7 linked regions of the Homo sapiens genome follow. The protein of the gene in region 1 purifies or fractionates together with the protein of each later gene. This does not show direct contact. Each region holds a gene or a part of one and is shown in the gene's direction. Other genes may lie near its edges.

What was found.
Region 2: the proteins of TRIM3 (region 1) and NAP1L1 purify together in Homo sapiens (affinity purification with mass spectrometry, with the first as the bait; one large-scale study listed by BioGRID). This does not show direct contact.
Region 3: the proteins of TRIM3 (region 1) and CD200R1 purify together in Homo sapiens (co-immunoprecipitation; one large-scale study listed by IntAct). This does not show direct contact.
Region 4: the proteins of TRIM3 (region 1) and SRP9 purify together in Homo sapiens (affinity purification with mass spectrometry, with the first as the bait; one large-scale study listed by BioGRID). This does not show direct contact.
Region 5: the proteins of TRIM3 (region 1) and ZNF276 purify together in Homo sapiens (co-immunoprecipitation; one large-scale study listed by IntAct). This does not show direct contact.
Region 6: the proteins of TRIM3 (region 1) and RPL21 purify together in Homo sapiens (affinity purification with mass spectrometry, with the first as the bait; one large-scale study listed by BioGRID). This does not show direct contact.
Region 7: the proteins of TRIM3 (region 1) and SAE1 purify together in Homo sapiens (affinity purification with western blotting, with the first as the bait; one study listed by BioGRID). This does not show direct contact.

Annotation. Positions count from the first base shown.
Region 1 is NC_000011.10:6,470,698-6,475,563, reverse strand, and holds the start of TRIM3 (tripartite motif-containing protein 3), read left to right. Parts: upstream 1-1,622; 5' UTR 1,623-1,773; exon of another isoform or gene 1,774-1,906; coding exon of another isoform or gene 1,907-1,953; intron 1,954-2,315; coding exon of another isoform or gene 2,316-2,480; intron 2,481-4,866.
Region 2 is NC_000012.12:76,053,279-76,057,611, reverse strand, and holds part of NAP1L1 (nucleosome assembly protein 1-like 1), read left to right. Parts: intron 1-1,450; coding exon 1,451-1,579; intron 1,580-2,521; coding exon 2,522-2,593; intron 2,594-3,702; coding exon 3,703-3,842; intron 3,843-4,261; coding exon 4,262-4,333. UniProt on the Homo sapiens protein: Histone chaperone that plays a role in the nuclear import of H2A-H2B and nucleosome assembly.
Region 3 is NC_000003.12:112,933,604-112,937,936, reverse strand, and holds part of CD200R1 (cell surface glycoprotein CD200 receptor 1 isoform a precursor), read left to right. Parts: intron 1-4,333. UniProt on the Homo sapiens protein: Inhibitory receptor for the CD200/OX2 cell surface glycoprotein. Limits inflammation by inhibiting the expression of pro-inflammatory molecules including TNF-alpha, interferons, and inducible nitric oxide synthase (iNOS) in response to selected stimuli.
Region 4 is NC_000001.11:225,787,483-225,791,454, forward strand, and holds the end of SRP9 (signal recognition particle 9 kDa protein), read left to right. Parts: intron 1-1,757; coding exon 1,758-1,877; 3' UTR 1,878-2,982; downstream 2,983-3,972. UniProt on the Homo sapiens protein: Component of the signal recognition particle (SRP) complex, a ribonucleoprotein complex that mediates the cotranslational targeting of secretory and membrane proteins to the endoplasmic reticulum (ER).
Region 5 is NC_000016.10:89,737,704-89,741,425, forward strand, and holds the end of ZNF276 (zinc finger protein 276), read left to right. Parts: exon of another isoform or gene 1-17; coding exon of another isoform or gene 18-102; coding exon 103-202; exon of another isoform or gene 203-272; coding exon 273-543; 3' UTR 544-897; coding exon of another isoform or gene 898-1,005; 3' UTR 1,006-1,178; coding exon of another isoform or gene 1,179-1,271; 3' UTR 1,272-1,425; coding exon of another isoform or gene 1,426-1,586; 3' UTR 1,587-1,774; coding exon of another isoform or gene 1,775-1,850; 3' UTR 1,851-2,290; coding exon of another isoform or gene 2,291-2,396; 3' UTR 2,397-3,100; coding exon of another isoform or gene 3,101-3,163; 3' UTR 3,164-3,222; downstream 3,223-3,722. Other genes in the region: FANCA (Fanconi anemia group A protein), read right to left, coding at 898-1,005, 1,179-1,271, 1,430-1,586, 1,775-1,850, 2,291-2,396, 3,101-3,163. UniProt on the Homo sapiens protein: May be involved in transcriptional regulation.
Region 6 is NC_000013.11:27,249,749-27,254,761, forward strand, and holds the start of RPL21 (large ribosomal subunit protein eL21), read left to right. Parts: upstream 1-1,809; 5' UTR 1,810-1,837; intron 1,838-4,016; 5' UTR 4,017-4,028; coding exon 4,029-4,095; intron 4,096-4,471; coding exon 4,472-4,533; intron 4,534-5,013.
Region 7 is NC_000019.10:47,133,491-47,137,823, forward strand, and holds part of SAE1 (SUMO-activating enzyme subunit 1), read left to right. Parts: intron 1-4,333. UniProt on the Homo sapiens protein: The heterodimer acts as an E1 ligase for SUMO1, SUMO2, SUMO3, and probably SUMO4. It mediates ATP-dependent activation of SUMO proteins followed by formation of a thioester bond between a SUMO protein and a conserved active site cysteine residue on UBA2/SAE2.

The DNA of each region.
Region 1 (4,866 bases):
GAATGAAAAATGAAGAGGGAGTGGCTAGATGAAGACTGCAGGCTGGTTAAGGACTTTTGCCCTCTGGAGAAGGAGCTGAGAAGTGTTTTAAGCAGAAATTTGACTGCATGGGAGAAGTATAGAGTTGAGAAAAGTAGTCCTCTGAGGCTTAAGATAGTGTCATCTAGACTCCAGTTCCCTCATCTTGGGTAGCATAGTAGCCCCAGCCCAAAACTGCAAGCATGATCCCCGTCTGGGTTTCCTTCACAAGCACTGGAGCATCTTGTGCTATGTGCTGAACTCAGGTGGATAAGAGGTTGAGGCGGTTCCCAAAGCTCCTGCTGCACCCAGGTGTTGAGCCTAAATCTGAACCTTGTGGAGAGGTCACAAGAAAGATCCCTAACAGCACTTTGGTTTAGTCAGGGCTAGGTGTCATCACCTGTATGCCCTTTGGCCAAGGAAACCAGAATTTTTCAGGATTTTCCCCACCTCTGGAAGGCTGGAGGAAGGGGAAGACCCACTCAGCAGATTCCCATAGTGCAGGGATCCTCACAGGCATGACTTTGCCCTTTGTCATGGATACTGCAGCTCCCAGACAGTCTTCTGGGCTTTGATCAGCCTGCAATCATCTGACTAGAGCTTGATTTTTGGGGCAGGGAAGGTGGTCCTTATATGAGCTGCCACTTAATGGGCCACTGGGGATTTTTCAACATGAAAGGTACCGAGTCTCCAAATGCTGGTTGTAGGGCCTAAAAACAGGGCTCAACTCCAGGTTCTGCCACTTTCTAGCTGAGTGATGAGGGCTAACGTCTGGGGAGCAAGATCCCTATTTTTTCCCATTGTAAAATTGGGCTAATAAAAGATGCTACCTACTGACTATTAAATAATATATGTAAAGTGGCTAGTTCTGTGTCGGCACATAATAACCACTCAGTCCCTGTAAACTGTTACAATTATTTTCCACTTGGGGCTGCTTTTTGCACAAGGCGATGATTCTGAGAATTGTCCAGTGTCTTTGGTGTGAGGAAGGGAGTCGCTGGATGGTCTGAACCAGAATTTCCTCAGGAGGGGGCTCCTGAAGCGCCCAAAGCCTAATCAAATCCCCCACCTTTCTACCCCTTAACTCCTTCTCCCAGAGTTCTGGGTACTGCCCTTCTGCCGCCCAGAGATCGTGCTGAGGTACAGACGGTTTCTACGTCTTCCTGGTCAGCCGATAGACTAGCATATTCCATAGGAGCACTCCAAGGAAGCCGGAAAGGGCGCCTCCAGGAGGCAGGCGGCCCAGACAGGCTCCCAGAGTCCGAAATCCCTGCTGCCCCAGCTGCCTTTTCTTGACGGAGTCTCATCTCAATCCCTGAGACCGACTACACCGCCCTTCCCGGAGCCGGAGGCAGCTGGCGGAGATCCGGGATCCGAGATCCGGGATCCGGCTCGCCGGCCCGCCGGCTCCCTAGCAGCACCAAGGAGGCAGCGTCCGCAGGAGGTGGAGGCGTTGGCGGGGGGGCGTGCGGGTGCGGTAGGGGTGGGCAGGCGGGGTGGGCGGGGCCTCCGCGGCGGCGGGCGGGGCGTGGGTGGGTCTTCCCTACTGGAGTCACCCCCTCCCCCGGCCGGTCCGCAGCCCCGCCCCGGCCCCTCCCTCCGGCCTGTGCGGCTAGTCCGGCGGCGGCGCCGGCGCGGGGACAGGCGGAGGCGCGGGCAGGGCCGGGCGGACGGGCGCTGGCAGCAGTAGCAGCGCCGCGGGCCCTTCAGAGTGGCCGCAGTCCGAGCTTTGCCCTCGCATCCTGTTCCAACGCGGTGAGTGCGACGGGCGGGCCCCAAGGGTGCGTTTGTATTCCTGTCAGCCCGGGTCTGGGTCGGAGCGTCTGTGGGTGGGGGCACAGATGATTTTCAAAAGCTGTGCCTCTCTCTGCCCACGTGAGGCGTGTCCATGTCCGTGAGAGCAGCAGGGGGATTCTTCGGGCTGTGGCTGCTCACGTGAGGTCCCTGTTTTGAGGCGGGGAGGCGCGGGTGGATGGGTGATGGTTCCTTAGGGGAGCGCGGGGTTTGGGAGCTTGTGTGTGTTGGCGGAGGGTGCTGAACGCTGCGGCCGAGGGTGGTGGTGGTGGTGCGTGCTGAGTGGGACTCTGGAATATTGTGGCCCATCTTGTCTGAAGGGCTCTTTTCTCCCTGGTGCAGACACCTCCACCCCTTGCTCCCCCACCCCCACCCTACCCCACCCCCCGCCCCTTCCATCCTCTGGTACCCACAGGCCCACCAGTCAGGATGGAGGACACCCTTTCCTCCCCATGCACTGCTCTGTGGACAGAAAGCCTCATGTGGAGGCTGTTTTTTTGTAGGAAAGGACCCCTCTGGTTCTCCTGTAGCCTGAGCCCTGCCTGGAGGACCCCAGGCCCCTCCCTGGTTCTGACCTCCTCCCTTCTGCAATTGGCTTCAGATCCTGGGCTGCAAACCTGCAGGGACAGATGGTTGCAGGTTGGAGGGGCAGGCTGCACCCCAGGGAGGTCAGTTCGACTGAGGGCAGGCCCTGGGCTTGTTCTTGGTGTGGGGGTTCTCTGATGTGGACAACAGAAACTCAGGACTGGCCCTAGCAGGAAGATCACATCTGGGAGGTCACAGCAGGTGCAGAAAACATCACAGGTCTCCCTTGGCCAGTCTGTCTAGCTCACTGGTGCCCATTCATCCCCTAAGCAGGGGATGATTTGCTGCAGAATTGGAATCAGAGCTGCAGGCCTGACAGTAGCCCTGCCTCCTTGGGCTTGTATGCCTCCAGTGACAGAGCACTTGCTACTTTCTGCTGTGGAAAAGCTTCCTTATATTAAGCAGAGGTCTCTCTTCTTGGGACTTTATTCACTTGTCTTGTTACTGCCATTACTTTTGCATCTCTCTCTGATGAAAGGGAACTGCAGAGATTTAAACAGAGCTCTCCTGTAACCAACATATACTGAGTACTTCCTGTGTGCCAGGTACTGCCACAGCCACTTAGGAGACAATGGCATTCTTGCCGAGAGAACTTGAGCAAAGAGTCCATCGTTGGGATAGTATAGCCCAGGTTCAGAAAAGCAGAAAAACCATATGGTTAGAATAGAGAGCGTTCATAGAGTGTCACAGGTGACTTAAAACTCAGCAAACATTTATTTACGGGGGCGAGGGGGCAGGGGGAGTGTGGAGGGGAGGCAACTAAGACCATCCTCTAACACATTTAGCCTAACAGTGGAAACTAGAAGTCAAATCATCGAGGTAGTACAAGATGGGATTTAATCATGGGCTCATGGTACAATCTGTGGAAGCCCTTGGCTTGAGAGGGAACCTTGGGAATCTCAGATTTTGAGAAAACATCCCTCTTCTCCCAATTTACAAATAAGGGAATGGGGTTGGAACTTACCTAGAGTTTCACCTTGTGTTAGTGGAGTTAGTTACAGCATTAGGACTAGATCCTAGATCTCCTAACTTTTTAAACCTAGCCAAATTTCAGAGGCAGAATTGAGGATGTAGTCATAGCTTGTATCTGAAAGGTGAAAGAAAAGGTGTAATTGAGAAGACTACCAGGGTTCTCGCTTGTGTGGGTGGGTGAGTGGTGGTGCCTTTTATTTATTTATTTATTTAGATTTATTTATTTTTAGCATATTTATTTTTATGCTTTTAGGATGTAAAAGCATCATGTATAACCTCTGCCTTTTGGAGATTTGCAATCTTGTCCATCTGTTCCATATTTCTTAGTTTCTCATGTTTCTGTTTCTTTACTCACTGTTTTCCCAATGTACGTATCAATGTCCTATTTGTCTCTCAAGACCCAGCTCAAATACCCCTTCCTCTGGAAGCCTTCTTTATTCTGTACCATCCTCAGAGTTAGGTACTTCCTCCAGTTTGCTGCTGTAGCAATTTGAACATGTCAATATCATGGTACTTATCACATTGTAGTTACGTGTTTCCATTTCTGTTTCTCACATTAGTCTAAAAACTTGTGAAAGACAGGGAGTGTGTCTGATTCAGCTTTGTGTCTCTATTTCACAGCTGAAGGACCTGGCCCACAGTGTGCCCAGAGAAGTTTGATTGAATGGTTCATTCACTTTACTCAGTCTGGCAATGTTGGGGGAGATGGCCATGAATTTCATTGCTTTCCTTCCCTGCTAATCTTATTTAAAGGATTCATTGGCTTTAAGGACTTTGCCTCATCCAAGGCTTCATTTGTTTCAGAGAAAGCCCAAAGACTGTAACCTGCAGTCATTTGTCATTTTTTTGAGGTCTCAAATGATCAGATAAACCTGGAAGCTAGTGAGTAGACGTGAGTTATTTTAGCAAGCAAATGAGCCTAGCTGACCTCTCGCATCCATTTTCAACAATGCCTTGGTTACCTCCATTCACAACTGTGTAACTCATGTGTACTGGGAATCCTGTGAGATTGTAGGAGGAAGTCCTGGGGAAAATTAATGCTATTTGAGAATTTGGAGAAACTGAAAAGCCTTGAAACACATCCTTTGCAGATGTCCAGGATCTAGTGGAGTCAGCACTGGCTGTCTTCATTTGTTCACAATCAGCTTCTTGCTTGACTCCCTGCATCTGGCTTCCTGTCCTCCATCCCCTGAAAACCACATGCTCTGAGGTTAATGAAAGCCTCTTTGGGGCTTAAATAATGGGACCTCTGCAGCATTTCACTCCCTTGTTCATGAAGTTCTCTTCTCCCTTGGCATTCATGACATCTGTTTCCTGATTCTCTTGCTTCTCTGGTTGTGCCTTCTCAATCTTCTTTGCAGACTCTGCTTCCTGGGCCTATCTCTTAAATATTGAGGTTCCTTGGGACTTGGTGATAGACCCTCCTTTCTCTCTTTACCCTCTCAGGGTAATGTCATCCACGCCCATGGCTTCAGGAACCATCTCTGCACCAACATC
Region 2 (4,333 bases), on another chromosome or scaffold:
GCATCTAACTTGGCTCTGTTCCTTGGGTCTCCTTTGCAGTCAGCCCTATTGGAATCGGAAACGTCAGCAGCCATTTCACAAACCCAGGCAGTTGCACAGGCCCCGCCAGCTCTGCTCCCGCCACTGTTGCCAGCTGAGCCGACAAATGCAACTCGTTTCCCCGGCCAGGGCCTCCCTAGAGCATCAGTTGTATTTTTATACCTAGGAAATATTTTTCCTTTTTGTAAGAATGATAATGCAGATGAACTGTTATTCAACCTGGCACCACCATCTGTACTCAAAAAGTCATTATTTCCTTACATTTTATAGTTTTTTTGTTTAAGAGACAGGGACTTGCTGTGTTGCCCAGGCTGGAGTACACTGGCATGATCTTGGCTCACTGCAGCTCATTCCTGGGCCCAAGCTATTCTCCCACCTCAGCCTCCCAAGTTGCTAGGACTATCTGAAGCTACTATGCCCAGCTTAATCTACTTTTTTTTGTAGAGGCAGAGTCTTCTTGCCTAGGCTGGTCTTAGACTCCTGGCTTCAAGCAATCTTCGCACCTCAGCCTCCCAAACTGTTGGGATTATGGGCTTGAACCACTGAGCCACTGTGCCCAGCCTATTTTTATAGTTTTTTTGAGTCTCTGTTGCCCAGGCTGGAGTGCAGTCTCGGCTTATTGCAACCTCCACCTCCTGGGTTCAAGCAATTCTTCTGCCTCCTTCTCCCAGTAACTGGATAACAGGCGTGCGCCACCATGCCTGACTAATTTTTTGTACTTTTAGTAAAGATGGGGTTTCGCCATGTTGGCCAGGCTGGTCTCCAACTCCTGACCTTAAATGATCCACCCACCTCACTTCCCAAAGTGCTGGGATTACAAGCGTGAGCCACTGCGCCTGGCTTACAGTTTTTAGTTTGTAGATTCATTATATTCTTTTTTTTTTTTTAACTTCATGGTAGGCTGAGGATTGTTGCCATTTTCAAGTGAAGACATGGAGGCTTCTAAGTGACTTGCCCACAATGAATAATGGCAGAGCTGTGACACACATTCAGTGCTGTGTTAAGTGTTCCACCTCTCTAGCATTGCTATTTTATGTTGTTTGGTAAAGAGAATATAATGTTTTGATTAAGAACACCATGGGGTGAGGCAATGGACCAAATTAGTATTTCTGTTGCTTTTCTTGTTTATTATGCTTAAGTCTTCATTTTTAATTAGTTTTTACATTTTTTTTTTACTAAAATGGTTTTTCCTACACATCTTGGTCACCTTAGTGGTTCTCTTTGGAGGGGTGTGGTAGCAGTAATTTTGATGGGATTAAGGTTTGTTATGGGCAACGGCGGTGTTTACACAGATAGACTAGAACTTTGAAGGTAATATCTGGTGACTGTGCTTTTTGGTTTTTATACCTTTGCTACTTTATCATGAGGTCTAATCTATGTATTAAATAATGTTTGCTGTCACTTAATCAAGGAGGAATTGAAAGAAAAGGCCAAGATTGAAGATGAGAAAAAAGATGAAGAAAAAGAAGACCCCAAAGGAATTCCTGAATTTTGGTTAACTGTTTTTAAGAATGTTGACTTGCTCAGTGATATGGTTCAGGTAATTTTATTCATAAATGTACCAGTTTACTTTGAAGGGTAAACCTTTGAAGTTTAAATGGCTGTGATCACTGTTCTCTTCAGTGTTGATCTTTCTAGAATGATTGCTTACTTTTGAAATAGCTAATATCTGTAGAAGAGAAATTACAGCTTTGATTAATGTAATCAAATAAATTAGTTTATTTTAAAAAATGAGATAATGAAATGGTCCCATTGATAATGGCTCATTATCGACTGGTGTTTTCTTATAACCCTGTGCCTTTTGTCTTTACATACTTAGTATGGAAGTATGATGGGAAAGTTAATCTTATAGCTGCAATTATGCAATTCCCTTAACTCTTCCAGGAGAAATTTGCATTTTAAAAGAATACCATAAAGATGTTAAACTCATTCACAATGGTTACATTCTCTGGCAAACCATAACTGTTGTCACCTTTGGGAAACTGCCTCAAGCATTTCTTGAGTGAGCCCCTACCGTCTACATTGTAGTAGTACATGTTGCCCTGTCTTGTCATTGTTGGAAGTTACATGGAGAAAAAGAAATGATCTTCACACAATTACTGCTTATTACAATTCTACTTTAGCAAAGTGGAAAAGGAACGACCAGGAGGAAGGGGACAAGCAGCTGGAAAAGGCAGCAATTACAATCAGGAAACATTTTAAAAGTAGATATGCCTTATTTAGACTTGATTTTGGATTTTTCAACCTATATAATAATTCAGTTGTCTATTTGGACACTTTTTCTCTACCAGTGGCAGTAGAACTACAGTATAAATTAGCTTTAGTATAAGCCATAACCTGGAGAGTAAGTCTTAAGGTTCATAATTGCTATACAAAACTACTTTGAAATATATTATGTCTCAGTCAGCTGGTGTTTGTGTAGTAACAGAACACAGTCCTCGAATGCCATGTTATTCATTTTTATTATTTTTTTAATTTGAAGGAACACGATGAACCTATTCTGAAGCACTTGAAAGATATTAAAGTGAAGTTCTCAGATGCTGGCCAGCCTATGGTAAAAGAACTTTGAAATATTTATAATTTTGTAACATGCTTACAGGTAGATAAATAGAAGCTTTTAAAAAGATAACATTCAAGGGTAAGGTTGGTGCTCTTTGTTATAGTGAATAAATATTTGGATGCTGCTAATTGTGAGGCAGTATTTATTCCTTTTCCTCCTTCTGATCATAAATTGTGTTTGAAACACAGACAATCCTTGTTCCTGGATAAGTGGATAAAAATAATGCCAAGGGAACATGAATAAGTACTTTTTCTGCATTAAAAGGCATGAGCTTGGGAATTACACAAAACTGATGTTAGAGGATGCCCACTCCCTAATGAGGAAAGATCAGCCAACAAGCTGTCCACCAAACCACCAGAATTAATGTCAACTAAGGGCAAAACTGCTAAGAATATAGGCTGTAGATGCTTAAGGTTGGGCTTTTTCTGTGTCAAGTTCACGTTTAGTCTACTATTTAAAAGCCTGATTCCTCCAGTAGTTGGGGAGTAAGGGAGGCAACATGGTCACTTTATTCAGGAATGCCTAGCCTGTTGTGTAAACATGTTAATTATTTAATAGATGTAAATTGAAACTAAGTTCTATTCAGTTCAATTTGTACCTCATTATTATTTTAACGTAATTTTTTTGATTTTAACATAATTTGGGGCTCATCTGACAGTCTGTCCCATTCTTAAATATTTCATGGCTGGGTGCAGTGGCTCACACCTGTAATCCCAGCACTTTGGGAGGCCGAGGTGGGTGGATCACTTGAGGTCCGGAGGTCAATACCAGCCTGTCCAACGTGGTGAAACACTGTCTGTACTAAAAATACAAAAATTAACTGGGTGTGGTGGCACACACCTATAATCCCAGATAATTGGCAGGCTGGCGCACCAGAATCACTTGAATCTGGGAGGCAAAGGTTGCAGTGAGCTGAAATTGTGCCCCTGCACTCCGGCCTGGGCAACAATGCAAGACTCAGTCTCAAAAAGAAGATTGTATTTCAGAGTAGAAAAAAAAATTATCATTTAGAATATTTATAAAAACAGATGAAGCTGTGTTTACTAAAGTACTGAAATATGTGAGGTAGGTATTTAACTGATTTTTATGCTTCCTCTCCCCAGAGTTTTGTCTTAGAATTTCACTTTGAACCCAATGAATATTTTACAAATGAAGTGCTGACAAAGACATACAGGATGAGGTCAGAACCAGATGATTCTGATCCCTTTTCTTTTGATGGACCAGAAATTATGGGTTGTACAGGGTGAGTTTAATTTTACTACCTTAACAAAATGTTTTTTCTGTTTTTGTTATACTTGATTTGTATACTCGGTTATTTTCAGTTACATATGTACATAGTCTGTCTCTGAACATTTTGGTAATATGTTTTCTGAAAAGTGCTTATCAAGTTTCCTGTAATTCTCCTTGGACCCATGACTGTCTCACATATATTTTTGCAGAGGAATGCTTCTTTAAATTATACTATGTGTTTGTGCTAATTGTAAATGTGTTTATTTTAAATATTTGCTTAGAAATAAAATTTTTCCCTTTATACTGCTATAGAAAACATTTGAAGCAATTCACCCTTCTAAAATTTGAAATCTAAATAGAACATTTACTTCTAAAAGTTTAGCAGTTGAAAGATTGTCAATTGTAATAGATTTTTCTTCTTTGTTTTGCAAGGTGCCAGATAGATTGGAAAAAAGGAAAGAATGTCACTTTGAAAACTATTAAGAAGAAGCAGAAACACAAGGG
Region 3 (4,333 bases), on another chromosome or scaffold:
AAATACCTAGGAAAACAACTAACAAGGGAAGTGAAGGACCTCTTTAAGAAAAACTATAAACTGCTGCTCAAAGAAATCAGAGATGACACAAACAAATGGAAAAACAGTCCATGCTCATGGATAGGAAGAATCAATATTGTGAAAATGACCATACTGCCCAAAATAGTTTATAGATTCAGTGCTATTCCCATTAAGCTACAATTGACATTGTTCACAGAATTAGAAAAAACAGTTTTAAAATTCATATGGAACCAAAACATAACCCAAATAGCAAAGGCAATTCTCAGCAAAAAGAACAAAGCTGGAAGCATCATGCTACCTGACTTCAAACTATACTATAGGGCTACAGTAATCAAAACAGCATGGTAGTTGTACGAGAACAGACACATAGACCAATGGAACAGAATAGAGAACCCAGAAATAACACCGCACACCTACAACTATCTTATCTTTGACAAACCTGACAGAAACAAGCAATGGGGAAAGGATTCCCTATTTAATAAATGGTGCTGGGACAGCTGGCTAGCCATATGAAGAAAATTGAAAGTGGACCCCTTCTGATATGGTTTGGCTGTGTCCCCACCCAAATCTCATCTTGAAATGTAGTTTCTATAATCTCCATGTGTCATGGGAGGGACCTGCTGGGAGGTAATTTAATCATGGGGGGCAGTTACTCTCATGCTGTTCTCATGATAGTGAGTGAATTCTCATGAGATTTGACGGTTTTATAAGGGGCTTTTCCTCCTTTTGCTTGGCACTTCTCCATGCTGCTGCCATGTGAAAAAGGACATGTCTGCTTCCCCTTCTGTCGTGATTGTAAATTTTCTGAGGCCTCCCAAGCCATGCTGAACTATGAGTCAATTAAACCTCTTTCTTTTATAAATTATCCAGTCTTGGGTATGTCTTTATTAGCAGCATGAGAGCAGAGTAAAACACCTTCCTTACATCATGTACAAAAATCAACTCAAGATGGATTAAAGACTTAAACGTAAAACCCCAAACTCTAAAAACCCTAGAAGAAAATCAAGACAATATCATTCAGGACATAGGCTCAGGCAAAGATTTCATGATTTCATGACAAAGATGCCAAAAGCAACTTCAACAAAAACAAAAATTGACAAATGGGATCTGATTAAACTAAAGAGCTTCTGCACAGCCAAAGAAACTATCAACAGAGTAAACAGACAACCTACAGAATGGGAGAAAAGTTTTATAATCTATTCATCTAACAAAGGCCTAATGTCCAGCATCTACAAGGAACTTAAACAAATGTATAAGAAAAAAAGAACCCCATTAAAAAGTGGGTAAGGAACATGAATAGATAATTCTCAAAAGAAGACATACATGCAACCAAGAAACATATGAAAAAAAGCTCAACATCACTGATCATTAGAGAAATGCAAATCAAAACTACAATGAGATACTATCTCACACCAGTCAGAATGGTGATTACTAAAAAGTCCAGAAACAACAGATGCTAGCGAGGTTATGGAGAAAAAGGAACACTTTTACACTGTTGGTGGGAGTGTAAATTAGTGCAACCATTGTGGAAGACAATGTGGTGATTCATCAAAGACATAGAGGCAGAAATACTGTTTGACTCGGCAATCTGATTACTGGGTATATACCCAAAGGAATATAAATAATTCCATTTTAAGGATACATGCACGTGTATGTTCATTGCAGCACTATTCACAATAGCAAAGACATGAAGTCAACCTAAATGCCCATCAGTGATAGACTGAATAAAGAAAATGTGGTACATATATACCATGAAATATTATGCAGCCATGTATAGATGAGTTCATGTCCTTTGCAGGGACATGGATGCAGGTGGAGGTGATTAGATTATCCTCAGCAAACTAATGCAGAAACAGAAAACCAAACAGTGCATTTTCTCACTTATAAGTGGGAGCTGAATGATAAGAACACATGGACATATGGAGGGTGGAAACACACACTGGAGCCTGTCAGAGGGTGGGGAGTGGGAGGAGGGAGAGCATCAGAAAGAATAGCTGATGGATGCTGGGCTTAATACCTCGGTGATGGAATGATCTGTGCAGCAAATCACCATGGCATACATTTACCTAATAAACCTGCACATCCTACCTATATACCCCTGAAGTTAAAATATTGCAAACAGAAAAAACAAAACTTTTTTGTTGTTGGTTTTTTGCATTTCTTTTTAGGTTCAGTTTCATTGAGTTCTGCTCTGATCTTTATTCCTCCTACTAATTTTGGGTTCAGTTTATTCCTGGTTTTCTTCCTTAATATGTGCTGTTAGGATGTTAATTTGAAATATTACTACTTTTTTGATGTAGGGATTTATTGCTATGGATTTGCCTCTTAATGCTGCTTTTGCTGTATCCCTTAGGTTTTGGTATTTTGTGTTTCTATTTTCATTTGTTTCAAGAAATTCTTAAACTTCTTAATTTCTTTCTTTACTCATTTGTCATTCAGGAACATGCTGTTTAACTTTCATGTATTTGTATAGTTTCAAATGTTCCTCTTGTTATTGATTTCTAATTTTATTCCATTGTGGTCACATAAGATGATATGATTGTAATTTTTAAAAATTATTTGAGACTTGTTTTGTGACCTAACATATTGTCAATTCTGGAGAATGTTCCATGTGCTGGTGAAAATAATGTGTATTTTGCAGCTGTTATATAAAATGTTCTGTAAAGGTCTGTTAGGTCTGTTTGATTTATGGTGTGGTTTAGATCCAATGTTTCTTGATTTTCTGTCTAGATCATCTGCCTAATGCTGAAAGTAGGGTGTTGAAGTCCCCACCTATTATTGCTTTGAGGTTTATCTCTCCCTTTAGCTTTAATAATATTAGCTTTATATATCTGGGTGCTCCAACATTGGGTCCATATATATTTCCAATTGTTATGTCGTCTTGCTGAATAAATTCCTTTATTTTTACATAATGTTCTTTTTTATATAGCCTTTGTCTTAAAGTCTGTTTTATCTAATGTAAGTATAGCTACTCCTGCTTGTATTTGGATTCTGTTTGCATGTCTTTTTTCCACTCCACTTTCAGTTTATGTGTGTCTTTACAGGTGAGATGAGTTTCCTGTAGGTGGCATATAGTTGGTTTTTTGAGATGGAGTTTCGCTCTTGTCACCCAGGCTGGAGTGCAATGGCATGATCTTGGTTCACTGCAACCTCTGCTTCCCCGGTTCAAGCAATTCTCCTGCCTCAGCCTCCTGAGTAGCTGGGATTACAGGTGCCCGCCACCATGTCCAGCTAATTTTTGTATTTTTAGTAGGGATGGGGTTTCATCATGTTGGCCGGGCTAGTCTCAAACTCTTGACTTCAGGTAATGCACCCTCCTTGGCCTCCCAAAGTGCTAGGATTACAGGCGTGAGCCACCATGCCCAGCTGGGTCTTATATTTTTAAATCCACTTGGCCAGTCTATATCTTTTAATTGGGAAATTGAATCCATTTACATTCAAGATTATTTGATAGATGAGAACTTACATCTGTCATTTTATTGATTTTTTTTTTCTGCTTGGTGACAGTCTTGCCTTTATTTCTGAAGGATAGTTTTTCTGGATATAATATTCACTGACAGTTATTTTCTTTCAGTACTTTGAATGTATCACTCCATTTTCTCTTGGCCCATAAGGTTTCTGATGAGAAATCTGCTATCAGTATAAGGGGGATTCCCTTATATTTGGCTTGATGCTTTTCTCTTGCGTGTTTTTATCATTCTTCCTTTGTCTTTGCCTTTTGATAATTTGACTATAACATTCCTTAGAGAGGATGTATTTGGGTTAAATCTATTTGGGAAATTTTGAACTTCTTGGATCTGAATCTCTCTCTCTCTCCCAAAACTTGGAAAGTTTTCTGCTATTATTTTATTAAATATGTTTTCTGTGCCTTTTTCTTTCTTTTCTCCTTCCAGAATTTTTATAATGTGAATGTTTTTTGCTTACTGATGTCTCCTAAATCCTGTAAACTTTATTTTTTTAAAATTCTTTTTCTTTTTGTTTTTAAAATCCTCATGTATTATTTCAAAAGACTTGTCTTCAAGTTCAGAAATCCTTTCCTCTACGTTTTCTATGCTGTTGTTGAAAAATCGTATTTTTTATTTCATTCATTGACTTCTTCAGCTCTAAAATCTCTTTTTTTATGATAGCTATCTTTTTGTTGAATTTTTCATTTAAATCACAAATTGTTTTCCTGATTTTATTGAATTGTTTATCTGTATTCTCTTTTATCTCATTGAGTTTCCTTAAGATTATTATTTTGAATTCTTCTTCTGGCATTTCATATATTGCCTTATAATTGGTTATGTTACTGGAGAATTACTGGGTTGATTTG
Region 4 (3,972 bases), on another chromosome or scaffold:
AAGATTGTGCCACTGCACTCTAGCCTGGGTGACAGAACTAGACTCGGTCTCAAAAAAAATAAAATAAGGGAATAAATGCAGAACGAATTTTAATACAAAAGGCCTTATCTCCAATTGATGGCTCTTTTTGCCCTGTTAATGATTGAATATAATTAAGGATCCATGTTAACTTCGACTTTTTTATAATCCCATGTATCCATCATTTTTCTAATCCCATAATTGATTTAGAATACTGTCTTCTATGGACCTAAAATCTTTTTCTGTCAGAAATTTCAGTGAGAAGGTATGTACATTCTCTCATAGGACATGTGCTAAAATTTTGATGATGAAGATTAATATGGCCTTTTTACAAGATTGCCGCACAAATTTGTACAATGCGTGGATAAAAATTTTTTTAAGTGAGTTGTTTAAAAGGCTCACTTAAAAAAATCAGTTGGGCATGATGAGGTTGAACTTCAAGTTATTTAAGTTGTTGACTTTTATTATAGGATCATTAGTTCCTGTTGTTTAAAACTCATGTGAACCTTTAAGATGGGCTGAAGAAAAGTGGATCTGTACTACAAAATGAGGAAAGGGCTGCCAGCTTAAAGTTGCTGTTTTTGAAGATTCTACAACAGATGGCTTTATGACCAACCATAAGCAGATCTTAAGTATCTAGTGAAGAATTTAACTGCTAACAAGGAAGAATTTGGTTTGATTTAAAAGTAATATCTTCAAGCCTGGGCAACATGGAGAAACCCCGTCTCTACTAAAAATAGAAAAATTAGCTAGGTGTGGTTGTGTGTGCCTGTAGTCCCAGCTACTCAGGAAGCTGAGGATCGCTTGAGCCCAGGACGCAGGTTGCAGTGAGCTGAGATTGCACCACTACACCCCCAACCTGGGCCACAGAGTGAGACACTGTCTCAAAAATACATACCTTCAGCAAATCAAGATTTTTTTTTTTTTTTTTTTTGAGACGGAATCTCACTCTGTCGCCCAGGCTGGAGTGCAGTGGCATGATCTTGGCTCACTGCAGCCCTCACTCCTGGGTTCAAGCGATTCTCCTGCCTCAGCCTCCTAAGTAGCTGGGATTACAGGCACACGCCACCACGCCCAGCTAATTTTTGTATTTTTAGTAGAGACGGGGTTTCACCATATTGGCCAGGCTGGTTTCGAACTGCTGACCTGGTGGTCCGCCTGCCTCGGCCTCCCAGAGTGCTGGGATTACAGGCGTAAGCCACCACGCCTGGCCAAGAAAATCAAGATTTACCTGGTTTATGTGTTGACCAGCTATACACAGAGAATTCTAGATTTTTTTCTAAAAATTATTATCAAACCCCCAATTTCACCAGTAGAAAAAGAGATCTTAAGATTTCTGTGTTTTTTTTTCCAGCATAACTCAGTTACTTATGGCTGGGAGAAAATATGTAGGGAGATAATCTAATACCTAATTCGAAGGAAGAAAATATCTAATTCTAAGTCTTGAGTTCTTCTCATCAGACCATAGCAGGATTTAACATTTAACATTTTTCAGAAGCTTCTAATAGACTTCATTCAGTTTTTTGTCCACAGCAGTGGCATTTAAATTACTGTACTTTAAGACATGGAATTGCTGGAGGCTTGGAAACTTGAGTGCAATTTCCCTAGTACGACCTCCAAGGAGAATAGAGCAAAACAGTGGTAGGAAAAACTCTCAAAATTTTACCCAATTGTATGTTTTCTACATTGTCAGTATCTAGTTTTATATAGTTAATATGTACTTCTAAAATTTCTGACAGTGTTTGGTGTATAAAACAGACCAAGCTCAAGATGTAAAGAAGATTGAGAAATTCCACAGTCAACTAATGCGACTTATGGTAGCCAAGGAAGCCCGCAATGTTACCATGGAAACTGAGTGAATGGTTTGAAATGAAGACTTTGTCGTGTACTTAGGAAGTAAATATCTTTTGAATTAGAGAAAGTGTTGGGACAGAAAGTACTTTATGTAACTAAGTGGGCTGTTCAGAAGCTTAGAGGTCATTTTTTGTAATTTTCTTTTTAATTACTTTAGAGAGCTAGGGATGCAAATGTTTTCAGTTAGAAAGCCTTTATTTACTTTTGGAAATTGAACAAGAAATGCATCTGTCTTAGAAACTGGAGATTATTTGATGTTAGGTAAAACATGTAATTGTTTCTCTGGCAAATTTGTATCAGTAATTTGAAAATGAGATATTAGGAAAAACCAATTCTTCTTAAATTTAGTTCATCTTTCTTTAAAAGAACATTAAATGTAACCATTTTGTCAGATCCATGTATTTTGGAGCATAAAATGTATGCTGTTGTGACCAATAAATATAAAATATGGTAATTGGAATTAACTCCACACCATAGTATGCATTGTTATACATACTGTGTACCTAATTATGTATAGCAGTGTAGTCTCAATTATATCTGAAAGTAATTGTGACTAACAAGTATGCTTTGCCTTATTTCCACATTTAAACTACCTGTTAATATAAGGGATTTGTAGTATCAGCTTGTTGAGCAATGACTTTGAATCTAGTTTTCAGTGATCAGAAGCAGCAGTTATTTGAGTGTATGAATGGAATGATGATCACTGTGCTATAATGTACTGAAACCACCATATTACAGAAATATTTACTACATATTTTCCATCTGTAGTTTCTCAGAAGGGCTATGGATTAGTTTGAACTGTCAAATCCTTGCATACTTCTGTGACACCCCTGCCCATTTTCTGTCTTTAATTAACCAAGGTGTTAGGTGTGACTGTCACAACTGTTATGTTTTCCAGTAAACTAGAAGTACGATATTTGATAATTATATTTGTATTTCACCACCTAAATGTAATGTTGATTCCTCAAGAATGAAATGAAGGCACTACATTGAAATATGTTTTGTATAAATTTGTCATGTTGAACAGCATTTTAGCATGGTAAGTTCCCTTAGCTATATGAATTTTGGCATGTTTCAGAGAGATCAGTAAATAAAATATTAGATAAAATATATATTGTTTGTGTTGAAGTTTTTAACTTTTCAGAAATTGTTGATTTCTGAGCTGGGATATACTATATTCATTTAGTCCAAAATGAGCCTAGTAATGCTGAAAGCAAATTTTTTGTTTCTCAGTACTTTATATTATATGACTTTCTCTGCACTATATGTTAATAGCAAGTTTGTTTTCTTGAATTAGAAAAGTAACATCAAATAGTATAGGATTATTTTGGCTTTTTGTTTTTTTTTCCCCCAGAATTAATGGGATCACCATCAGGGGAGGGGAGAGGCTTGACCTTTTTCCCCCTTATTTAACACTACAGAGATGACCTGAAAAGGAGAGACTGGCATTTGGGTTCTTTGAGTCCTGGTAGCGTGTAACAGAGTGGTTAAGAACAGACATTCCAAGTCAGACTGCCTGGCTTTAAATCCTGGCTCCACTATTTCCTAACTCTGTGGTCTTAGACTAGATACTTTTCTAAGCCTTCATTTTCATCTCTGGAAATGGGGCCAACAATAGTACTTTGCTTGTAAGACTGTTAAGATTAAACATCATGATCCAAGGCTGGGCACAGTGGCTCATGCCTGTAATCCCAGCACTTTGCGAGGCTGAGGTGGGCGGTTCATTTGAGGCCAGGAGTTTGAAACCAGCCTGGCCAACAAGGTGAAACCCCATCTCTGCTACAAATACAAAAATGAGCTGGACACAGTGGCACACTGTTGGGGTGATCAGGCCCAACACCAGGCCATGGGGGCTACAAAGTCCAGCAGGGTCAAAGGAATGAGAAAAGACGAGTGCATAAAGTGGGCCAGGCACGGTAGCTCACGCCCGTAATCCCAGCGCTTTGGGAGGCCGAGGCGGGCGGATCACAAGGTCAGGAGGTTGAGACCATCCTAACACCGTGAAACCCCGTCTCTACTAAAAATACGAAAAAAATTAGTTGGGTGTGGTGGCGGGCGCCTGTAGACCCAGCTACTTGGGAGGCTGAGGCAGGAGAATGG
Region 5 (3,722 bases), on another chromosome or scaffold:
CAGAAATGTCTTCCCAGCTGTGATGGTTTCACATTGTCATCGTCGTCCCCCCGGGAGGTTGGAGCATCAGGGGCCTGGACTCACTGGACTCTCCCCTCTCAGAGGTGCGGAACTATATCTGTGACGAATGTGGACAAACCTTCAAGCAGCGGAAGCACCTTCTCGTCCACCAAATGCGACATTCGGGAGCCAAGCCTTTGCAGTAAGTGTGAGTCAGGACCCCCTCCCAGGGCTGTGGCCCTCGCACCTTCTTATCTGCCTCTGTCCCCCAGGTGTGAGGTCTGTGGGTTCCAGTGCAGGCAGCGGGCATCCCTCAAGTACCACATGACCAAACACAAGGCTGAGACTGAGCTGGACTTTGCCTGTGACCAGTGTGGCCGGCGGTTTGAGAAGGCCCACAACCTCAATGTACACATGTCCATGGTGCACCCGCTGACACAGACCCAGGACAAGGCCCTGCCCCTGGAGGCGGAACCACCACCTGGGCCACCGAGCCCCTCTGTGACCACAGAGGGCCAGGCGGTGAAGCCCGAACCCACCTGAGGACGGCAGTGAGGATGAGCACCTCTAGCAGCCTGGACTCCGCAGTGGCTGTGTCAGCCTCACCCTTCGTGTGCACCCGCATGGGAGGGTCGGAGGGTGCTGCCCGCCCTTGGTGCTGGAGGCGGGCTTGGTGTCCGGCTCAAGTAGCCTTCCTCTGCTCTGGGACCAGTGGTTTATTTTCCCGCAAACGCTGAGTGACTCGGGGCCGGACAGTTCATAAATAATTGATTCCTTTCCCCACTAAAGCAGTCGAGGAGATTTGTAATCCACTTTTTAGTGCAACAAGAGCTCCATGTTATGCTTGTAATAAATTATTTACACGGGAGCTGGGCTGGTGTGCAGTGGCAGGTCCCGTCAGAAGAGATGAGGCTCCTGGGACAGGTCAGCGTCAGGGGCAGCCTGCTGTCTGCTCTGGAGGGCGGCGCTCACCTCTGGGTCGCAGTCCCCACGATCAGCCAGCAGCTGTGAGAGAGGAGCAGGTCCTCAGCCCATGCCGCCCACTAGGCCTCAGACCACAGGGGAGGGGCTCTGGCAGAAATAGTCGAGTTGTATTGCCAGCCAGGCAGGCACATGGCCCAGGCAGCTGTCAATTCTCATGTCCCCCACATGGCCCAAGGTGGGCATCTTGACGTTACCTCTGCCACGTGTGAGAAGCTCTTTTTCGGGCACCGAGGTATTAACTGCAGCAGAAAAAGACGAGCTTTTGTTATCAGTTCCACGGGGTTGCCCTAGAGAGAAAACAGGCAAACTCACAGGTTAGAAGACATACAGAAACAGGGCTGGTGTGTCCCCCATAGTCTGCATGCTGTGCCGGAACATTCTTTGGCAGAAGGAGCCTCCGGCTGGGGGGAGCTCCCCTGGAGGTGGGACTGGCCCTTGCACCTGCCTGACCCTTGAGCTCCAGGCTCCTGCCAGCTGGAGGTGAAACTGTGCTTGTATCCCCAGCCACGAAGAGCTGGACCAGCTTCAAGTACATGTCCACAGCAACATGCAGGAAGGCCTCTTCCCTGATGGCCGCGTCTTCATGGAAGTAGGAGAGAAGACTAGAGGTAAAGACATAGTGACAAATGGCTACAGACTGCTGGAAAGGTAGCAGGTGATGCCAAGGGATACTGCTCATCTGTGGAGCAGAGGCACAGACAACCCTTCCCATCTGGCGGGACCCAGAGGTGCTGAGATGGGGGTCTGGGAAACACTGCCCAGCCCTGACCAGCCCTGTGGGTGGAGGTACCTGTAAAAAGCGAAAGGCAGCAGCCTGGTGTGCTGATCCGGGGCCACACGGAGGAGGAGCCGCCCCAGCCTGAGGTCTGCAACACCAAGAAGTGGCTCAGGCAACTCTGGACATCTCTGCCTATTATCAGTGCTGGGGACACCCCTGGGGGTCGGGACGTGTACCCTGGGAGGCCTGGCTGTGGGGATAGTGTGGGGCGAACAGCCTGAGCTGAGGATACCCAGGTACCTGTCAGCAGCTGGGAGAGGATGGGGGGGTCGACCTCTTGCAGGAGGGTGGGTGTGGTGCAGAGAGAGGCAGTCCCCATGATAGGCCCATTGGTCCTGGGGTTGACCAGTGAGCCAGTAAATTATCTTATTGCTTTAAACAAGTTTGTGCTTAATCTGTCCCAACTAAAATGGAGCTTATAAACTTACTTAGCAAGGAACCTCAAGGAGGGCTCGTTCTTAACCATTTGCAAGATGCCTCTGAAAAGAGCGGCCCTCCGCATTTGTGCCTCAGCAGCGTGTTTCTTACCACTCTCTGTCAACTGAAAGAGTGCCAGCCAGGATATCTTCCTCTTCTCTAAACACTCGAGGATTGCTGCACAAACGTGGAAAGCCTTTGGCAGGTCTGTGGTGCTCTGTAAACCGCAGGAGACCAACCCTGAGAATGGCCGACCTGGTGCTCCCATGGGTAGGAGGGTACAGCCCTCAGCACAGAAGAGGGCATTTCCTCTTTGCTTATTGTAAGTCTTAAAACTGGTGACAGTTTTACCTATAGAAGGTAATACTGGGCCTCTGGACAGAAGAGGCTCAGGTAGGAGGCCAGGGACTTCGAGCACCCACACCAAGGCTGCTGCACCACGTCCTCAAATAAGACATTAAAAGAAAGGCCCACAGGCCGGATGCAGTGGCTCATGCCTGTAATCCCAACACTTTGGGAGGCCGAGGTCGGCGGATCACTGAGGCCAGTTCAAGACCAGCCTGGCAATATGGTGAAACCCCGTCTCTACTAAAAATACAAAAATTAGCCGGGTGTGACAGACTCACGCCTGTAATCCCAGCTACTCGGGAGGCTGATGCAGGAGAATTGCTTGAACCCAGGAGGCTGAGGTTGCAGTGAGCTGAGATCACACCACTGCACTCCAGCCTGGGTGACAGAGTGAGACCCCCATCTCAAAAAAAAAAAAAAAAAACCCACGGCCTGGGAGTTCTCACTCACACTTCCGCAAACACAAGGAGCTCCTGAGCTAGTCTGGAAACCCTGACTTGGAAGCTGGCTGCCTGGTGCCCCTGCCTGGCCCACAGTGGGAGAGGACACCTTGGCTGGTAAGGTCTGACTTACATTTGAGGTCAGATGTGACGACAGCAGGCCCATCAAGGAGAAGAAGAAAAGGAAAACCAATAGCTGTAAATAAAAACGTGCACTTATTATTACATTAAAATTACCTGTGCTGTCATTCTAAATAAGGCTGACACATTCCTCTTTAATTGAAATTTTTTACATCTAGGCCATAAATCCTTTAAGTGGATCTTAGAAAACTTTCCAATCACTTCTAGAGAGACAGCTTAATTGAGAATTAATTACTACTGGCTGGGTCATTTCACACTTGCCTTTAAACAAAGCTAGAAACAGTTTGAAAAAGTGACAAGAGCCAGAAAGAGAAGACTGCTGCGGTCTCCTTGGCTGTGCGCAGTCCCAACTCAGCATCATCTCCCTGCAAGGCCTCCTGTCAGAAGTGTTTGTAAAATCCTTGAAGATAAGCCCACAGGCTCCAGCCTAAAGTAGGGCCTGACTGGGCAGGGTCTCTGTGGACACTCCTCGCTGCACACTAGGGTCCTAAGGCCCTGGAGCCACTAAAATCCCTTCTAACAAAACTACACAAGAAACCTGAAGACGTACTCAGAAGAACCCCTGCAGGGTGGTTATAATCACCAAAACCCTGGGCGCTGCTGTCGATCCAGCT
Region 6 (5,013 bases), on another chromosome or scaffold:
GAAAAGTGACCTGAGGAAGTGAGTGCTAACAGAGTGACTGTAATAATGAACTACAGAAAATTAAGTTAAAGACAATCTAGAAGCCAAGGGCTAATGGTTACAGTGAAAGTCTGGAGGAGTCAACGTATTGAAGGAATCAATACCAAATCCTATTCCTCCTCAAGTTCTTCAGCAAATGATGTTAAGTGCTGATGACGATGGTCACAGAATGTACACATTTAAAAAATGGTGCTGACGCAGTTCTTAGAAATTACAACTTTCAGGTGCATCAGGAGAGTGAGTCGAAGACATGCAAATTTCAAAAGCGACTGGACGATATTATTTATATTCAGTCTGATAAGGGATTTTGTTAACTTAGCTGACTTTTTAAAAATGCATCCTAAAAATACATACAATCATGAGAAAAACATGAGACAAATTCCATGATTAGGACATCCTACAAAATACATGACCAGTACTCCTCAAAACTCTCAAGGTCACCAAAAGTAAGGAAAGTTTGAGAAACTGCCACAGCCACAAGAGGCATATAAGGAGACATCATAACTAAATGTAATGTGGTATTCTGGATGGAATCCTGGAACAGAAAAAGGGTATTAGGTAAAACCGAAGGAAATCTGAATAAAATGTGAACCTTAGTTAATAACAGTGTAAAATATTGGTTCATTAATTGCAACAAATGTACCATATTAGCATGAGATGTTAATAATAGGGGAAACTGGATGCTGGGTATATGGCATTATCTCAATTTAAATAAACTACATTAAGAAAATAATATCTATTTTTAAAGGTGTAGTGAATAAAACAATGGCCACCCATATATTTAACACCCGGTTTAATAATGGTCAATACAGTTAAAGCCTCCCTTTATTGTCCCCTCCTTACCAGATATGACTGCTTTTCTCAACTTGATTTTCATTCTCTTGTATTTCTTGACTTCTTTAACTACATATGTATGCATAACTAAGCAATATATAGCATTGTTTTACAAGTTTTAGAGTTGAATGTATATGAATTGTCATACTATTTATTTTTCTACATCTTTCTCTTTTTGCCTCATCACATTTCTGAGTTCAGTCTTCTTTTATTGGCGTATAATACTACATCCTAACATCCCATAAGGTATTTATTCTGTTATTGATGGACGTTTCTAATTTTTTGCTTCTACCCACAGCGCTGTTACGTACATCCTTGTTCACTTACCAAAGTTTCTACAAGACATATAGGTAGGAGCAGAGTGCTGGGGTTTAGTAATTGAAAACTTTTACTAGATTTTGCCACATTGCTTTCCCAAAGAGGTTTTAACATTTGCGCACCTACTAGCAGGTGCGTATGTTTAGACGTGTGGAGGAGAAACTATTTAAAGACATACAAACTAGATAATATACTTGCTTCATTCTCGTTTGACCTTCGTACCCAAGCAATTATTTCTGCAAACAAACAAATAAACAACTACTAATAGCACTTCCCGCACCGCCAGCCGCAGTTTTCCCTGCGGAGACGCGGATACAAGGCAGCTTCCGGCGAAGGCGGTGACGCAAAGGATGGCGTAAGCACGCTCGGGACGACGGCGTCCTCTTGATCGCCCTTGAAGGCCCCTTTCCGGGCTGTCTGACACGATGCAAGTGTCAGCTTGTGTTGGCCGGTTGCCTTTCTTTCGCAAGAGGGGAAAATATCCTCACAGACTTTCTGTGTTCTCAGAGACGATCTTCTTCCCTAGAAAGAAGTCGCTTACGGTTGGCGTTTCCCTCAGGCAGCGCCGTGGGCAGCCCACAGGCCCTTGTAAGGCGCGCGCCGCGGCCCCGCCTCTTTCCTTTCGGCCGGAACCGCCATCTTCCAGGTAGGGCCTACGCGTGGCTCCCGGGCGCTAGGTGTTCGACAGACTTGAACCGCGACCTTGTGGCCTCAGAGGTCGTTCATTGGGACCGTGGGGAGACTCTCTAACCTGTTTGAGGTCCATTGGCATGGGCGGGTTAAACCATGTTCTGCCAGACGGGGAGCAGCGTGCGCCGGGTCGGGTCTGGGCCGTGGGCTGAGAACCGGACTGCGATGTTGCGGCCCTGCGGGGGGACATTTGCGAGAAAGACGAGACTGAGTCGCTTGGGGTGAGGCGACTCGAGTTAATCTTTAAAAGACTTCGTTTTATGTTCCCGTGGCTGCATCTCCGGTACTGTGGGTGGCCCCTCTCACATAGGCTGTGTGGGGGCCGCGTGGCCTGATGCCTTTCTAACTCCTTTCAGTGTGGCTTTTTTATTCCAAATCTTGCGATGATGTTGGGTGAGGACTTAAGGGGTAGTAGGAATGGGTTTAAAGTCAGGCGTCGGCTTTAATCTTCTGTGAAGCCTACAGGTGTGAAAACCCGGGCTCTCGGTCGGAGAGTGGGTCCCGGAGTCGTCCTGGGTGATGAACCCTCACTGCCCTTAGTTAATGCATAAGACGATTTCCGACTGTTTTTAAAATTTTGACCCCACATGGTGATCGGACGAAGGGAAAGTGTTTTGAGGTTGCAACACCAATATTTGCACCAAGAGGAGATACTGTTTTGCGAATTCTAGGGCAGCATGCTTTGAGTGAAGGGAAACATTTAGCCATAGTTCATCATTTTGTCTAGTTTGTGGACGTCAACAGAGTCGAGCAAACTGCAGGTTGCTCTTTATGGTGGATCCTAGTTGCCATGATTTTAATACTCTTACAAACTGTAAAGCATCGTTTTGAAAAGTGCCTTCAGTTTTAAGTGTATGGGGTCCATGCTTAAAATGGATTCCAAACTCAGAAAGATGGATCTAGTGGAGGATTATGGGCTCTGGAATCAGGAATGAGTTAACTGATTATGCCACTTGGTGATTCCACAAAGTGACTTGAATCTACACAGTATCACCCTTTGTGTACTAACTTAGCACAAGTTTTTGGAACTTTATACACATCTAAAGGCTTTGGGGATTGGAACAGAGTACCTGGCATTTAAAGGGTTCATCCATTGTAACAATGGTTTGACTTTGGTGAGTTAGGTGAAACATGTCTTCTTGCTATACAATTTTTATAAAAATGGTACTTTGGGAGCCATTCTTAAAGGATTGTTGGTAAACTTAGAAACCAAATTGTGTTAGAATATTGTCAACACGTCAAGCCTGACTGCTGTATTTTACCTTATGGTAGGAGTAATGGCCAGGAATGGCATTTCTGCCCTATAATGACTAAAGAGCTATCAAAACTATTGTTTTGGCCTTTTTGGGAAACAAAGGAAAGGTTAATTTCTAAATGCCTGTAGGTGAATTCTTAGATAATGATAAATTAGCTGCCGGTTACTACTGAGCACTTTACACGGGCCAAGCATTGCTGAGTTCTTTGTAGACATTACCTCAGCTACGAAAGTGTTCACCCCTATTTTACAAATGAAGATGAGAGATGAAATGTGGGTGTCCCAGCTAGTAAGTGGCAGAGCCTATGTCAAATTTAGGTCAATGATTATAAAGCCTGGGTTCCCCTCTCTTCTACCCTATATACGTTCGTAGTAAATAATCAGAAATGTGAAGTGGCTTGAGATTTCTGATAGTTAAATAGATGATGTTTGAGATACACCATCACGGAAAATTTGGTTGACAAGAAAGGTTTAATTCACATAAAAATGTAAGGCTGTTTTATTGTGTTCTCCACTAAATTATCTTCTAGTTAGTAATTACATGCCCTTGGCATTCTAAATTGGGTTCTACAGATAGAGTGTGGTAGAAGTCCTGTTGTGTTTTTATATTCTCATAGAGAAAGGGTACTAGTTTGGATTCTCGTATCAAGTTCTGCTCCTTAAGAGTTTTGATGTTATAGAACTTGGGCAGTTTTGCCAAAAGACCTTACTTGCTAAAATAATGATTTTTTAACCTTTCAACAGAACTAACTGCTTGGTGATCCAGCTTTCAGTTTGCAGTTCTCACTTCGCTACTGAAATGTGAACATTTGAAATTACAGGGGTTTGGGGCAAATGCCAGTTTTCAGTCGTATTTGACTGTTCTGCTTTCTGGTTTCAGTAATTCGCCAAAATGACGAACACAAAGGGAAAGAGGAGAGGCACCCGATATATGTTCTCTAGGCCTTTTAGAAAACATGGTAAGTAGGTTTACCTTCCTTGAGAGAAGCATGGCACACATTTGTGTTCTGTTGTGTTCAACATGTGTTGTAGTTCATAGAATGTGTATCAATAGAATTAAATAACTAGCGTCTACCCAGCTTATTTCGTGATAAGGTAAATAAATTACCAAAATTATATGGTGATTTTGTGACTAAGTATTGATGCAAGATTAAACTTTGGAGAGAGGTTGTGATTTAGTAGGCTGATTGTGCTGTCAGGAGAAATTGTCCATTGGGAAGATAATAAGCATGTAACCATCAAAAATGATATATGTGTTAAAAGCTAGTAAAATTGCATTTCTTTTACTCTAGATTTTTAGCCTTAATACTCACTATACCAAATTTATTTTTGTAGGAGTTGTTCCTTTGGCCACATATATGCGAATCTATAAGAAAGGTGATATTGTAGACATCAAGGTAAACATAAAATTGGGAAAATAACACTACAGAAGATAGAAAAGTTGGATTTAATCTAGTGTAGGAATTCAAATACTAGTGTATGTTGCATCTGTAAGAGTATAGAATGGATTTTTTTTTTTTTTTTTTTGGAGACGGAGTTTCACTCTTGTTGCTCAGGCTGGAGTGCAATGGCATGATCTCACCTCAACCTCCGCCTCCCTCCCGGATTCAAGCAGTTCTCCTGCCTCAGCCTCCCAAATAGCTGGGATTACAGGCGTGCACCATGATACCTGGCTAATTTTGTATTTTTAGTAGAGAAGTGGTTTCTCCATGTTGGTCAGGCTGGTCTTGAACACCTCGGGTGATCTGCTGGACTCAGCCTCCCAATGTGCTGGGATTACAGGCATGCACCATGATTCCTGGCTAATTTTGTATTTTTAGTAGAGAAGGGGTTTCTCCATGTTGGTCAGGCTGGTCTTGAACACCTCGGGTGATCCG
Region 7 (4,333 bases), on another chromosome or scaffold:
CTGTGATTACAGGCGTGAGCCACTGCGGCCTGGCCTGGTTTGTGTTTTAAAATGATCGCTCCAGAATAGGTTAAAGTGGTCAGAAATGGAAGTAAAGATTCTGGCTGGACTGTTGCAGTAATCCAGTTGAGATAAAAATATTGGTGGCTTGAAACTCAAGAGAAGGGGTCAAATAAATATATTCTGGATATATTTTGAAGGTAGAAGAGGGAACAGAATTTGGGGCAGAAGTCCAGGATGACACCACTGTTTTTGGCTTGAGCACCTACCTGGAACGATGGAATTGCCATTTTGAAAGATATGGAGAGCTGTAGGTTTGGTGGGGTCGGGGAAGAGTCAGTTCTCTTTTAGGTTTCAGATTTGTTTTTTTTGTTTGTTTTTTTTTTTTTTGAGACGGAGTCTCACTCTGTCGCCCAGGCTGGAGTGCAGTGGCATGGTCTCGGCTCACTGCAACCTCTGCCTCCCAGGTTCAAGCAATTCTCCTGCCTCAGCCTCCCGAGTAGCTGGGATTACAGGCGCCCGCCACCATGCCCAGCTAATTTTTGTATTTTTAGTAGAGACGGAGTTTCACCGTGTTGGTCAGGCTGGTGTTGAACCCCTGACCTCGTGATCCACCTGCCTCGGCCTCCCAAAGTGCTGGGATTACAGGTGTGAGCCACCATGCCCGGCCTCAGATTTGTTTTTTTATACAACTAAGTAGAAATATGTGAGGGGTTGAGTTCAGAGGTAAAATTTGGGTGATGGTGGGTATTGTGTGAGTACAGAGTATAGAATTAATGGAGGGGTTGGGGAGGCAGACACGTCAGGAGAATTTAGTTTGAGGGGGTGGGAGCTTTCAGAAGGTTTTAGAGGGTGCAGTGGTGGGATGGGAATTACCTCAGGCTCATTTCAGATCTGTGGGGTCTTCTTTGATGGGGTGGGGGGATGTCATCATGAGGCATTAACATTGGTGGGAGGGTTGAAGGCACCTGGAATAGATTGGGAATTAAGTGATGAGAATGTGCCTCTGGACATAGGTGGACTGCATTGATTTTAGGGACTGCTATTTTCTGGATGGAGTGGAAAGAGGATTTATGTGAGTTGGAGGAAACTTTGAGGAAGCTTGGTGTGTTCTGAGATCCTAAAGGGTTGGGGAGGGGATTCTAAGGTACTGGAAGGGTTAATCGAAGGGGTTTGCGGCAGCAGATAGCTTTGTTTGAAGTGGGGCAAAGTTGGTGAGGTTTAAACTGGAATGTAGTTAGGGAACTTTCAGAGGGATGGGGATGATTTTTCTGAGAAGCAGTGAAGAATGGATGGGGGCCTCTGAGTGGGAGATGACCTAAGGGACAAGTCAGGGTCAGGGCATGGAATTTGTGGGAGGTAGGAATTATTCTGAGGGAGTGGAGCTGTACCAAATTTGGTGGAGAACATGAAAAGGATTGGCTGGGGGTTGCAGGAGGGAGGGAAGAGGTTGTTTGTAATTTGTACTCTATTTTTAGACAGTCTTAGAGAGTTTATTAAAGTGTTTTTTGTCCATTTTCAGCCGAGGTTTTTAGAAATTAAAAATTTTTTTGTGTGAGTACATAGTAGGTGTATACATTTTGGGGGTATGTGAGATACTTTGATACAGGCATACAATGGGTAATAATCACATCAGGGTAAATGGGGTATCCACCACCTTAAGCACTTATCCTTTGTGTTACAAACAATCCAATTATATTCTTTTAGTTGCTTTGAAATGTACAACAAATTATTGTTGACTGTAGTCACCCTGTTATGCTATCAAATACTGTATCTTATTCATTGTATTTAATTATATTTTTGTATCCATTAGTCATCCCTCCTTCCCCTCCACCCCCCACTACCCTTCCTAGCCTCTGGTAACCCTCAGTCTACTATCTGCATGAGTTCAATTGTTTTAATTTTTTTAGTTCCCACAAATAAGTGACAGCGTGCAAAGTTTTCTTTCTGTGCCTGATTTATTTCACTTAACATAATAACATCCAGTGCCCTCCCTGTTGTTGTAAATGACAGGATCTCATTCCCTTTTTTTTGTAGACAGGGTCTCTCTGTCGCGCAGACTAGAGTGCAGTGGTGTGATCACAACTCACTTCAGCCTTGACTTCTTGGGCTCAGGTGATCCTCCCACCTCAGCCTCCCGGTAGTTGTGACTATAGCACGTGTCACAAGCCCAGCTAATATTTTAGTACAGGTGGGGTTTCACCAGGCTAGTCTCCAACTCCTGGGCTCAAATAATCCTCCTGCCTCCCTGCAAAGTGCTGGGATTAGAGGCGTGAACAGCAATGCCCAGCCTTTGTACCACAATTTCTATTTTTTTTTTTGAAACGGAGTCTCGCCGTGTCGCCTAGGCTGGAGTAGGCTGGAGTGCAGTGGCGCAGTCTTGGTTCACTGCAAGCTCCGCCTCCCAGGTTCACGCCATTCTCCTGCCTCAGCCTCCCTAGTAGCTGGGACTACAGGTGCCCGCCACCACGCCCGGCTAATTTCTGTATTTTTAGTAGAGACGGGGTTTCACCTTGTTGGCCAGGATGGTCTCAATCTCCTGACCTCGTGTACCACAATTTCTTTATCCATTTGTCTGTTGATAGACATATGGGTTGCTTTCAAATCTTGGCTATTGTGAAGAGTGCTGCAATAAACATGGGATTTATTGCAGTTTTTTTTCTTTTGAGACCGAGCCTCGCTCTGTTGCCCAGGCTAGAGGACAGTGGCACGATCTCAGCCCAGTACAATCTCCACCTCCCAGGTTCAAGCGATTCTCCTGCCTAAGCCTCCCAAGTAGCTGAGATTACAGGCACCTGCCACCACGCCCGGCTAATCTTTGTATTTTTTAGTAGAGATGGGGTTGCTGTGTTGGCCAGGCTGGTCTCAAACTCCTGGCTTCAGGTGATTGGCCCTCCTTGGCCCCCCAAAGTGTTGCAATTACAGGCGTGAGCCACCACACCCAGCCTGATTTATTTTCATTTGGGTATATACCTAGCAGTGGGATTGCATTTTTACCCGAGTCTTTTTTTTTTTTTTTTTTGAGACGGAGTTTCGCTCTTGTTACCCAGACTGGAGTATGGTGGCGTGATCTCAGCTCACCGCAACCCTTGCCTCCCAGGTTCAAGCAATTCTTCTGGTTCAGCCTCCCAAGTAGCTGGGATTACAGGCGTGTGCCACCATGCCCGGCTAATTTTGTATTTTAGTAGAGACGGGATTCCTCCATGTTGGTCAGGCTGTGAACTCCTGACCTCAGGTGATCCGCCCGCCTTGGCCTCCCAAAGTGCTGGGATTACAGGCATGAGCCACAGCCCCCGGCCTTCACCTGAGTCTTATAGCAGCTCTCTGGAGTCGGAAGGGCAGTGATTTCCTTCTCTGTTCAGATGAGGAAGGAGGCTCCACAGAGCAAATTGACTTGCCTCTAAGAGGGCTCTAGGTGGGATAGGAGGGTTCTAGGTGGGATAGGAGAACTCTGGAGACTGGAGTTCCTTTATGAAACAGAAGCCCTGGAAATGGGCAGGCTGATAAAATGTACAAATTGTGGGGCATTTTATAAGACAGTTATCCTACTTCTCTTCCAAAAGTCAGTTTCATGGGAAAAATAAGTGAAGGGACTGTTGTGGATTAAAAGAGAGTAAAGGCCGTCACAGTGACTCAGCCTGTAATCCCAGGACTTTGAGAGGCCGAGGTGGGTGGATCACCTGAGGTCAGGAGTTCGAGACTAGCCTGGCCAACATGGTGACCGTCTCTACTAAAAATACAAAAAAAATTAGCCAGGTGTGGTGGTGGGTGCTTGTAATCCCAACTACTTGGGAGGCTGAGGCAGGAGAATTGTTTGAATCCAGGAGGCAGAGGTTTTAGTGAGCCAAGGTCACACTATCGCACTCCAGCCTGGGTGACAAGAGCGAAACTCTGTCTCAAAAATAAATAAATAAAATAAAATAAAGTAAAGAAGCAGCTTCCTAGAGCAGATTTGGTTGCTTAAATTGAGGCCAAGTTTCTGGAGTTTTTATTGATAGTTGACAATTACAACTAAAATTTTTTTTTCTCGCTCTGTTACCCAGGCTGGAGTGCAGTGACGCAGTGACGTGATCTTCAGCTCACTGCAACCTCCACCTCCCGGGTTCAAGGGATTCTCCCGCCTCAGCCCCCAAGTAGCTGGGACCACAGGCGTATGCCATATCACTCAGCTAATTTTGTGTGTGCATGGCGTATGCCGTAACACTCAGCTGATTGTGTGTGTGTGTGTGTGTGTGTGTTGTTTTTTTTTTTTTTTTGTGATGGACTCTCACTCTGTCGCCCAGGCTGGAGTGCAGTGGCACAATCTTGGCTCACTGCAACCTCCGCCTCCTGA